2 separate regions of the Homo sapiens genome follow, and region 2 is linked to region 1. The links come from fine-mapping of genetic effects on gene expression. A gene starts in region 1. The other region holds a variant in brackets. All regions are shown on one strand. Distances are from middle to middle. Region 1 holds the start of SLC43A2 (solute carrier family 43 member 2). Region 2 overlaps SLC43A2 (solute carrier family 43 member 2).

The links. PIP is the estimated chance that this variant, and not a neighbour inherited with it, causes the effect. A credible set is the group of variants that fine-mapping cannot tell apart.
Region 2: its variant is the best candidate, but not a certain one, in a credible set for the expression of SLC43A2 in whole blood (INTERVAL, PIP 0.63).

What each region holds. Positions count from the first base shown.
Region 1 is chr17:1,626,231-1,631,596 of GRCh38, forward strand. SLC43A2 (solute carrier family 43 member 2) reads right to left here and starts at 2,604. Exons shown (of 14, transcript NM_152346.3): 1 at 2,564-2,604; 2 at 1,485-1,690. The coding sequence starts at 1,644. RefSeq lists enhancers at 777-1,314, 1,315-1,852.
Region 2 is chr17:1,592,239-1,597,604 of GRCh38, forward strand. It overlaps SLC43A2 (solute carrier family 43 member 2), which reads right to left. Exons shown (of 14, transcript NM_152346.3): 6 at 949-1,041. Among named protein-coding and RNA genes, the nearest start is that of PITPNA, 32 kb to the left of the region's middle. RefSeq lists an enhancer at 1,397-1,898. The variant T/C (reference allele first, on the strand shown) is at 2,895.

The sequences.
Region 1 (5,366 bases):
GCAGGAAGGGTCACGATCTCTAAGGGGGGAGAGAGGAAAGGAGAGGAAGAAGTAAACACTCCAACCTGTGCCTTTCGGGGACAGGCATTAATCTCCTAACAACTCTTGGCCAAAGCAGAAAGCTTGTTCAGGGAACAAGGTCTGACTCTTCCCAACTCCCAAGATTTCTTGCTGATGTGGGGAAAGACCTGCCAAGAACCCTTAGGCTATTAGGAAATATTTTTGAGTGGCTAAAGGCTAAAGGTTAGTTATAAATGATATACTTTCTGTCCTCTCCCCGCGGCCTCTGCATTCTCCTGCTTTCTCCTGCCCTGAACCTCTCCAGCTAAGCCTCCCTCCCTAGAGACTGGGACACACAGGAATCTCCGGGGCAGATCAGAGAAGGGAAACAGGGAGGCTTCCACAAAGGATTACACCCAGCATGAGCTGGTCCAAAGCTTTCTCTTCCTGCAAAGAGCTCTAGAAAGAAAAGGCCTGCTGCTGGGGATTCAGGAAGTCAAACCTGGGCTACCTCCATCTAAGGGCACTCTAGCACTGGCGACAGGGATTATGTGAGCTCAGCTATTATGCAGCTACCGTTGGGATCAAGGAGAAGGCAGAGGGAAAATTTCCTGTCAAGGTTGCCTAAGAAGGAGGGTAGGAGGCTAGAGGCTGGGGGCTGCTGTGGCCCTCCTGTGGGGCTGAATTTACTGCCCTGTAGTCATCAGGACCCTCCAACAGGGTATGAAGGTGTGAAGGTAAGTGTGTGTTGGGTGGTGCAGATGTCATGTAGAGAAGCATCCTCAGCCTGCCTTCAGCAATTCCAGTGACAAGGCAAAGAGGAGAGAACAACCCTAGCATCATTTCCATAAACGTTCCTTTCTTCTCTTCCCCTTCATCCCCATGGGGTTGGAAAGCCACGGAGATGTCCTCAGAGCCCGTGGGGGAAATGTCCTTTGGAGAATCATAAGGCAGCAAAAATAGACAAGAAATTGTGTCCAGCAAGCACTTAGGAGACTCCACAATGGCCTGAGGAACGTCTAGATTCTAGATGAGCCCTCCCTGGGGTGGAGGCAAGGCCACTTCCTCTCCTGCTGCACCCCAGCCCCTTAATCTGGAGTTCCTCTTTCTCACAAGCAGACAGCAACATGTTTACTACCAGCCAAGCTATGTTCCAGGGCTGGGAGGAGAGGAGAGCAGTCCAGCACTGTTCGTAGCGGGTGGAAGGAACACCCTGGACAGCAGGTGGGGTTCTGGGTGGATGGCAGGCCCAGGCTCTGCGGCCTTGCGCAAGACAGATCGCTCTGAGCCTCGATGTCTTCGTCCACAAAACAGGGGCAATGACAAGTACCCGGCAGGGCTGGGTGAGGATCAGATGGGCCTTCTGATACCCTAGAGGCACTGGGCAATGCGGTGCTGTGGCTCGCTAGGTCTTCGCCCCCATCCCGCCCCCTCCCAAAGCCCCAGCTCCAGGAGCCCCCCGCAACCCCAGGCGCTTGTCTCACCTGGCTCGGTACACAGGTAGGAGTAAAAGCCCTCTGACTTGAGCATGATGAGCAGCGAGCCCCAGCCCAGGAGGACTGCCGAGAAGAGGAGGTTCTCCAGCACGGCCGTGCAGGCCATCCACCAGCGGCGCCGATGGGCAGTGGCCAGGGTGGGCGCCATGGTGCGGCGCGGCGCGGCTCCGGCTCCGGCTCCGGCTCTGCACCACCTGCGCACAGAACTCGGCGTCAGCGGCCGGCCCTTGCCCAGCCCCTGCGGCCGCCCCCAGCAGCCCCGACCGCTGCCGCAGGGCTCGGGATTGCCACCCCTCCCCGGCCGCGGCGGCCGGTGCGCGCAGCAGAGGAAGCGAACCCCAGCCCTGCCCGGACCTGGGACACCCCGAGCCCGCGGCCGGCTCGTACCGCTGCCCTCCGCTACGACAGAGCCGCCCCGGCCAGGCAGGGAGACGTCTCCCGCAGCTCACTCCGAGGTAAACTGAGGCATGGAGGCAAGAAGGGGCTAACGCATGCTCAGGGCCGTGGAACTAGTCCTGGCCTGCAGCAGGACTGACATCGCCTGGGGCCAGCATGGAACGCAGCGTGAGGTGGGCAGGGGCAGATCCGAGGGCTGCCTCTCCCAGGGACCCTGACAGGTGCCCTCCCGCCCGCGCCCGAGACCCTTCCCCAGAGCTGGTTTCTTCAACCACAAGATCAGCGCCCAGACCTACGGAACGGCCCGCCCCGGCGCGCTCATTGGCCGGACGGCGCAGGAACTGCCGCGCCATTGGCCGCCGTCTAGGTCGCTAGGCGCTGCGGCCACGCGAACCCAGCGTGGGAGACGAGGAGCCGGTTCAAACCGGTGGCGCGAGCCAGCCGCGCGACCCCCATCTCGGGCGTTCCCCCGGCAACTCGCCCGTTTCCATGGCCTCGGACCCCCGCGCCTCCATTCCCCAGCCCGCATCTGTTCGTCATCTCTTCCCTGGCGGCCCCTCATCGCTCCATCTCTCTCCTCGTTCCCACGTTTTCTCCCTACGCCCCTTCGGCGGCCGCTTCTGCCCCCGCGCCCTCGCCCCGGCCGCGATCCCCTCCCTGCTGCAGCTCACCCGGCTCCTCCGGCGTGTGTCGGGCCCGCCCGGCGCCTTTTCTGCCCTCTTTTATTCCAGCCCTTTTATTCCGACCCCAAGAAGAAAACACTGCCGCCCGCTGATTGGCTGAGCGGGGCTGGAAACAGGCGTCGACCAATCAGCAGCCAGCCCCCCGCCCGCCCCGCCGCGAGCAGAAGCCGGTTCCGGCCGGACTCGGAGACAAACAAGAGAGATGGGGGACGGGAGGGGCCTGGGCGCTGCGGGCCGGGCCTCGGCTTTGCAGCCTTCAACCCGAGTCACAGCGCGGCCGGGAATCCCCGGCGACATCGCCCCGCGGCCTCTCCAGCGGCCTGACCCTGCGAGGCTGGGGCTCCGGCTCCGCGTCCCGGCCCCCAGCGGACTCCCCCCAGAAGCCGCCGGGCCACCAGCGCCCCCAGCCGGGCTCTCCCGCGGCCGCCCCGCCGTCCCCAGCTGCCCCCTGCGCGCGGGTCACCACGCCCAGATGCGCCGGCTCCGCACGGTGGTTCCACTCTCGAATCCCCACCCCGCCTCCTCCCCACGCAGCGCCGCCGTCCCCGCCGCCTCGGGCTTTGGGTCCTGGTTCCTCGCTCCCCCGCCCCGGTGGTTCCCGTCCCGGCGTATTCGGGGCCTGGGATCCCGGACCCGGTCCAGCCGTGGCGCCCCCCGCTGATGCACCGACCCCTTCCCCTCTCCCCGGTGGCGTCTGCCCGGTCCCTGGAAGTTGGCCCTTGGAAATCTGCAAGGGGATTTGGGGCTGGTCTGTCCCGTCCTAGGATGGGGTCTCCTGAGCTCCCCCCATCAGACTGACCTTTCTCCGCCCGTGTTCACGCACTGCTCGGTCCTCCGGGGACCCTCCACCCTTGATCGTCATCTGGGTGCTCCCTGCCCGCGCTGGCCACCTTCACCCCGTTCCCCGTCCCTTTCAGGGAAGGTCCCCTCTGCAGGGCGATGCTACGGGCCACGTCCGCCAGCTGGTACAAGCTAGGGAGGGTTCGAGGGGGCTCCGGGTCCCCGTCTGATAAGCCCGGGCTCCGAAAGCTCAGCTCCCCGTCTTCGTCCCCCGGATTCGAGGCACTAACCCGACCCGGGAAGACCCTCTGACTGCCCCAGAATCGCCTTGGTCACCCTGGCTCGCTCCGGGGGGCTGGCTTAGCACCCCAGGGCTGCCGCGCGGTGTCCACGTCTGGAATCCCAGCGGTTTGGGAGGCTAAGGTCGGAGGGCCACTTGGGGACAGGAGTTTGAGACCAGCCTGGGCAGCATGGCGAGAACCATCTCTACCAAAATAAAAACCAAAAATAAAACCCCACCACCACCCCAGGGCTGTGGGAGCCCCAAACGCCTCTTGCTCCACCTGCCCCAGTCCGAGTGTGCCCCCTACTGTCTAGAATCCGCCCGGGCCACCTGGCGAGGGCAACCTCCCCCAGACAACGCTTGGAGCTGTCAGCCTGCTGGGGGGCGGCTCCAGCTGGTAGCCTACCCGGTTCCTCACCCTGTGGAACCCTTCCCACTCCCAAGGTTTCAACTGCCATCTGAAAAATCTCTTTCTTCACCCTTCCCTCCTCTTTGAGCAGCCTGACGGCGCTGCAGGGCTCAAACATGCCTCAAATATCCCCCAGAACTGTCCTCCACATTTTCTCTCAGATAACCATACTACTACTGTCTACTGAAGTTAGATACCAAGAACCCTGTCTTTTTTCTTTTTCTTTTTTTTTTTTTTTTTTTGAGACAGGATCTCAGGCACCCAGACTGCTGGAGTGTGGTGGCATGATCATAGCTCACTGCAGCCTCGACCTCCTGGGCTTAGGTGATCCTCCTGCCTCAGCCTCCCAAGTAGCTGGGACCACAGGTGCATGCTACCACACTTGGCTAATTTTTGTATTTTTTGTACAGATAGGGTCTTGCCCTGTTGCCCAGGCTGGTCTTGAAGTCTTGGGCTCAAGTGATCCTCCCACCTCAGCCTCCCAAAGTGCAGGGATTACAGGCATGACTCACAGTGCCCTGCTGAGAACCATCCTTTCATCAGACATTTGTTAGGCAGTCGCTGTGATTCTGCCTCTCCCTCACCGCATCCCCATCAAACTGATACAGCTGTATCTCCTACATATTTACCTAATCGGTCCATCTGTGCCCTTAGGCCCGCAACTACTGTTGTTGAGCCACCTTCAGATTTCAGTTCCTCAAATCCAGCCCCCATCTCATCCCAGGGCACTAAGGGAAATGTAAATGTGACTTCTGCCAAAATCCTTCAGAAACTATTATTTGTAAAACAGGATAAAGTTCCAGTTCCTGGCTGGGCACGGTGGCTCACACCTGTAATACCAGCACTTCGGGAGGCTGAGGCGGGCAGATCACTTGAGGTCAGGAGTTAAAGACCAGCCTGGCCAACATGGTGAAACCCTGTCTCTACTAAAAATACAAAAATGGCTGGGCGCGGTGGCTCACGCCTGTAATCCCAGCACTTTGGGAGGCCGAGGTGGGCAGATCACAAGATCAGGAGTACGATACCAGTCTGGCCAAGATGGTGAAACCCTGTCTCTACTAAAGAAACAAAAAATTAGCTGGGTGTGGTGGCGCACACCTGTAATCCCGGCTACTCTGGAGGCTGAGGCAGGAGAATCACTTGAACCTGGGAGGCGGAAGTTGAAGTGAGCCGAGATCGTGCCACTGCACTCCAGCCTGGGCAACAAGAGCGAAACTTTGTCTGAAAAGAAAAAAAAAAAAAAAGATCTGGGTGATGTGGCACACGCCTGTAATCCCAGCTACCTGGGAGGCTGAGGCAGGAGAATTGCTTGAGCTGGG
Region 2 (5,366 bases), 34 kb before region 1:
CAACATGGTGAAACCCCATCTCTACTAAAAATACAAAAATTAGCCGGGCATGGTGGCGGGCACCTGTAATCCTAGCTCCTTGGGAGGCTGAGGCAGGAGAATCACTTGAACCTGGGAGGTGGAGGTTGCAGTGAGCCGAGATCGTGCTGCTGCACTCCAACCTGGGCGACAGAGCAAGACCCTGTTCCCCCCCAAAAAAAGGAGGAGGAAGAACTTTCGGGATGCTCCCCAGTCCAGGGGCATGAGAATCTCTGCAAGTCCATAGGATGGCTGGCCCCAGAGTCCCAGCTCCCACCACTTCAATGCCCAGGTGGCCAGCCCACACCGTGTCCCCCTCTCCTCGCCAACAGCATTCCCACACACACCACCGAGGAAAGGGGCTTTTACTTAGTGTGAGGGTCAGAGGTGGGAGAAGCCCCTACGGGGCCCTGGCAGACCCACAGGGTCTGGGGAACTTGGGCTGATGGACTGTGAGGTGTTTGCTTCGTCCTGACCCTGTGTGACTTCCACAGGCTCAAAATCCTGCCTAGGAGGGAAACAGCTGAAACACTTGGCCAAGAGCAGTGCTTTGGCTGGCGGGGAGTAACGGTACAATAACAGCAGGCTGGGGGTTGGGGAGCAGGGGAGCAGCGGGAGACCAGGATGACGGAGGAGACGGGGGCAAGACTCACAACTGGAAACAGACTCACCCACCGCCCTTCCCCTGCCCCAGCCCCGAAATGCAAAGGCACCTGCGGCAGATCCTGCAGCCACATGCGTGATTCCCGTCCCCTGAGGCCCCGCGGTTTTCATTTGTCGCCCCTGTGATGCCCAGGTGCATCCTGCCCGGGTGGGGGTGGTGGAGAGGGGCCACCCCGGGTGCCCACAATTGCCTCCCTCTTCAGAGAGGGTGGAAGGAGCCTGGAGCAGGCCTCTGCACAGACACCAGTGCAAAATACACGTGCTCACCTTGATTCCTGGAAAGGTGACTGCCGAGGAGGCGTAGGACCCAATCATCAAGGCAATAAACGTGGACCGAAGGTCGCCGAACATGTTGGGCAGCTGAGAGATAAGAAGCAGAGAAACCTCAGTGGGGAGGATGCACCAGGGAAGGGGAGGAGGAGGGGACAGAGAACTAGGCCCCATGAGGCCCCTTCTTCACCTGCGCCCCTTCCTGTGTGACTCACAGGGGCATTAGTTCAGGGGCAATGACCGCTCACTGAAGGTTTCTCCTTCATGGACTGAGGCTGATGGGGCCAAGGAGGGAGGTAATGCAGAATACAAGCAGTTGTCTGACTTTCCGGCTGGCAACCCTCCCTATCTCTCTGCTCCTGGCAGAGCCCAGGAGCCTTCTTGTCTTTTCAGGGTAACACTGAGATGCCAGAGAACAAAGTTATGAGCCTCAGGCAGCCCTCAAAGGGAGAAAGCCTGTTAAAAATAAGAATCTATTTGGGGATAATAGCATCATTTTATAAATAAAAATATCAGCATTCCAGAAAGACCAGATGTCAGCAAAAACTGCTTTTGGTTTGGAGAGGGTAGGTTTTTGGAAGATGTCAATCAGAATTCTACAGTTCTCTTCGGTCTGAGGATGAAGCTGGCCCAGGATTCCTGCTTCTGAATTTCTTTTCTTTGTTTTGAGATGGGGTTTTGCTCTTGTTCCCCAGGCTGGAGCGCAGTGGTGTGAGCTCGGCTCGTTGCAACCTCCGCCTCCCTGGTTCAAGTGATTCTCCTGCCTCAGCCTCCCAAGTCGCGAGATTAGAGATGCCCGCCACCATGCCTGGCTAATTTTTGTATTTTTAGTAGAGACGGGGTTTCACCATGTTGGCCAGGCTGATCTCAAGTGATCCGCCCGCCTCGGCCTCCCAAAGTGCTGGGACTACAGGCGTGAGCCACCGCGCCCGGCCTCCTGCTTCTGAATTTCTCAGTACAAGCAGGGGATTATCTTCCCACAGGATGTTCGGCCCGAGCAGTTAGCATCCTGGAAGGCCAACGGGAAGCAAGGTCCGGGCTCTCTTCCCAACGAAGCCACTCTCGGCATCTCACATCAGCTCATTCTGGGTACAGGGCAAGAGGGGGCCCACCTGAACAGGACTTCAAGGCTAACTCTTGCTCATTCTACCGAAATCCAGGCCTAGGGCAAACTACATCCTCCCAAAGAGGCACAGGTTCTCTAACCTCAAGAGACATCACACTGTGTGTAGCAAACCTTTCCTGTCCACACCCAGCGTCCCTGGCCTTGGGGGCTGCCCTCTGGATAGCCATGCCAACCTATTTCATTAAATTCAGGCTGCTTATGGGGACTTAATCTATGTCCCCTCCACCCTCCCCACCACTCCCCATTTGTCTTGAATCTTTTTCTTTCTTTCTTTCTTTTTTTTTTTTTTTGAGACGGAGTCTCGCTCTTTCGCCCAGGCTGTACTGCAGTGGCTCTATCTCGGCTCACTGCAAGCTCCGCCTCCCAGGTTCACGCCATTCTCCTGCCTCAGCCTCCCGTGTAGCTGGGACTATAGGCGCCCGCCACCACACCCGGCTAATTTTTTTGTATTTTCAGTAGAGACGGGGTTTCACCACGTTAGCCAGGATGGTCTGGATCTCCTGACCTCGTGATCCGCCCGCCTTGGCCTCCCAAAGTGCTGGGATTACAGGCGTGAGCCACCGCGCCCAACCTTTTTTTCTTGTTTTAAGAGACAGGATCTGCTGGACGCAGTGGCTCACGCCTGCAATCCCAGAGTGCTGCCTTTGACCTCAGAGTTTAAGACCAGCCTGGACAACATGGCGAAACCCTGCCTCTGTATCTTTTTAAAGTTAAAAAAAAGAGAGAGAGACAAGGGGGGCAGATCACCTGAGGTCAGGAATTCGAGATCAGCCTGGCAAACATGGCGAAACCCTGTCTCTACTAAAAATACAAAAAT[T/C]AGCCGGATGTGGTGGCAGGCGCCTATAATCCCAGCTACTTGGGAGGCTGAGGCAGGAAAATGGCTTGAACCCGGGAGGCGGAGCTTGCAGTGAGCCGACACTGCGCCACTGCACTCCAGCCTGGGTGACAGAGCGAGACTCTGTGTCAAAAAAAAAAAAAGAGAGAGAGAGACAGGGTCTCATTCTGTTGCCCAGGTGGGAGTGCAGTAATGCAATCATAGCTCACTGCAGCCTCCAACTTGGCTCAAGTGATCTTCCCCCCCCAGCTCCCAAGTCACTGGGACAACAGGCCCACGCCACCATGCCCCAGCTAGTGGTTTTTTTTTTGGAGGCAGGGTATCGCTCTGTCACCCAGGCTGGAATGCACTGACATGCAATCTTGGCTCTCTGCAACCTCCACCTCCCAAGTTCAAGCGAGTCTCCTGCCTCAGCGTCCTGTGTGGCTGGGACCACAGGTGTGCACCACCATGCCCGGCTAATTTTTGTATTGTTAGTAGAGATAGGGTTTCACCATGCTGCCAGGCTGGTCTTGAACTCCTGACCTCAAGCGATCCATCTATCTTGGCCTCCCAAAGTGCTGGGATTACAGGCATCAGCCATCACGCCCGGCCTTTAATTATTTTTGTAGAGATGGGGTCTCACTATATTGCCCAGGCTAGACTTGAACTCCTGGCCTCAAGCTCTTCTCCCACCTTGGCCTCCCAAAATAAATAATTTTTGTTTTATCAAACCTGCCTGCCTGCAAGCAAATTAACTGTTACTGAGCGGAGGGAGTTTGAACTTGGCGACATACCTGTCTGCAGTCACTGCTGCCTGTTTTGCCCACTTTTAAAAATGAGTAAGGGATGTCAGCAAAATTTAAAACCTCTGTGCTTCAAAGGATGGCATCAAGAAAGTGAAAAGAGAGCCGGGCGCGGTGGCTCACACCTGTCATCCCCGCACTTTGGGAGGCCGAGGCAGGCAGATCACGAGGTCAGCAGTTCAACACCAGCCTGGCCAACATGGGGAAACCCTATCTCTACTAAAAATACAAAAAATTAGCCGGGCGTGGTGGTGGACGCCTGTAATCCCAGCTACTCGGGAGGCTGAGACAGGAGAATCCCTTGAACCGGGAGATGGAGGTTGCAGTGAGCTGACATTGATCCACTGCACTCTAGCCTGGGCAAGAGTGCGAGACTCCATCTCAAAAAAAAAAGAAAGTGAAAACAGGCTGGGAGTGGTGGCTCGTGCCTGTCATCCCAGCACTTTGGAAGGCTGGGGCAGCGGGATTACTTGAGGGCAGGAGTTCAAGAAAGTGAAAAGAATGCACAGAATGGGAGAAACTTCTTACAAATCACAGATCAAGAGCTTGCATCTAGAATATATAAACATAGTGCCCAACAGTTATTCAAAAAACAAAAAATAGAACATATAAAGAACCCCTACATCTCAATAATAAAAAGATAAATAACCAATTTTTTTTTTTAGATGGAGTCTCGCTCTGTCTCCCAGGCTGGAGTGCAGTGGTGCGATCTCGGCCCACTCCAACCTCTGTCTCCTGGGTTCATGCCATTCTCCCACCTCAGCCTCCCGAGCGGCACCTCCCATTGCAGGTATGTGCCACCACGCCCAGCTATTTTTTGAAATAACCAATTTTTTAAATGGGCAAAGGATCTGAATAGACATTTCTCCAAAGAAGATATACAAATGGCCAATAAGCATATGGAAAGATGCTCAACATCATTAATCATAGTGAAATTCAAATCAAAGCCACAATGAGATACCACTTGATACCCATTAGGACACCAAAAAGTCACAGTGAGGCCAGGCGCGGTGGCTCACGCCTGTCATCCCAGCACTTTGGGAGGCCGAAGCGGGCGGATCACGAGGTCAGGAGTTCCAGACCAGCCTAGGGAACATAGTGAGACCCCGTCTCTACCAAAAATACAAAAACTTAGCGAGGTATGGTGGAACATGCCTGTAATCCCAGCTACTCGGGAGGCTGAGGCAGGAGAATCACTTGAACCCAGGCGGGGGTTGCAGTGAGCCGAGATCGTGCCACTGCACTCCAGCCTGCGCAACAGAGCAAGACTACGTTTTAAAAAAAAGAGGCTGGGCACGGTGGCTCACGCCTGTAATCCCAGCACTTTGGGAGGCCGAGGTGGGCAGATCACAAGATCAGGAGTTCAAGACCAGCCTGGCGAACATGGTGAAACCCCGTCCCTGCTAAAAAAATGCAAAAATTAGCCAGGCATGGTGACGTGCACCTGTAATCCCAGCTACTTGGGAGGCTGAGGCAGGAGAATTGCTTGAACCCGGGTGGTGGAGGTTGCAGTGAGCCAAGATTGTGCCACTGCACTCCAGCCTGGGCGACAGAGCAAGACTCAAAAAAAAAAAAGAAATGAGGCCGGGCGAGGTGGCTCACGCCTGTAATCCCAGCACTTTGGGAGGCCAAGGTGGGCGGATCACCTGAGGTCAGGAGTTCGAGACCA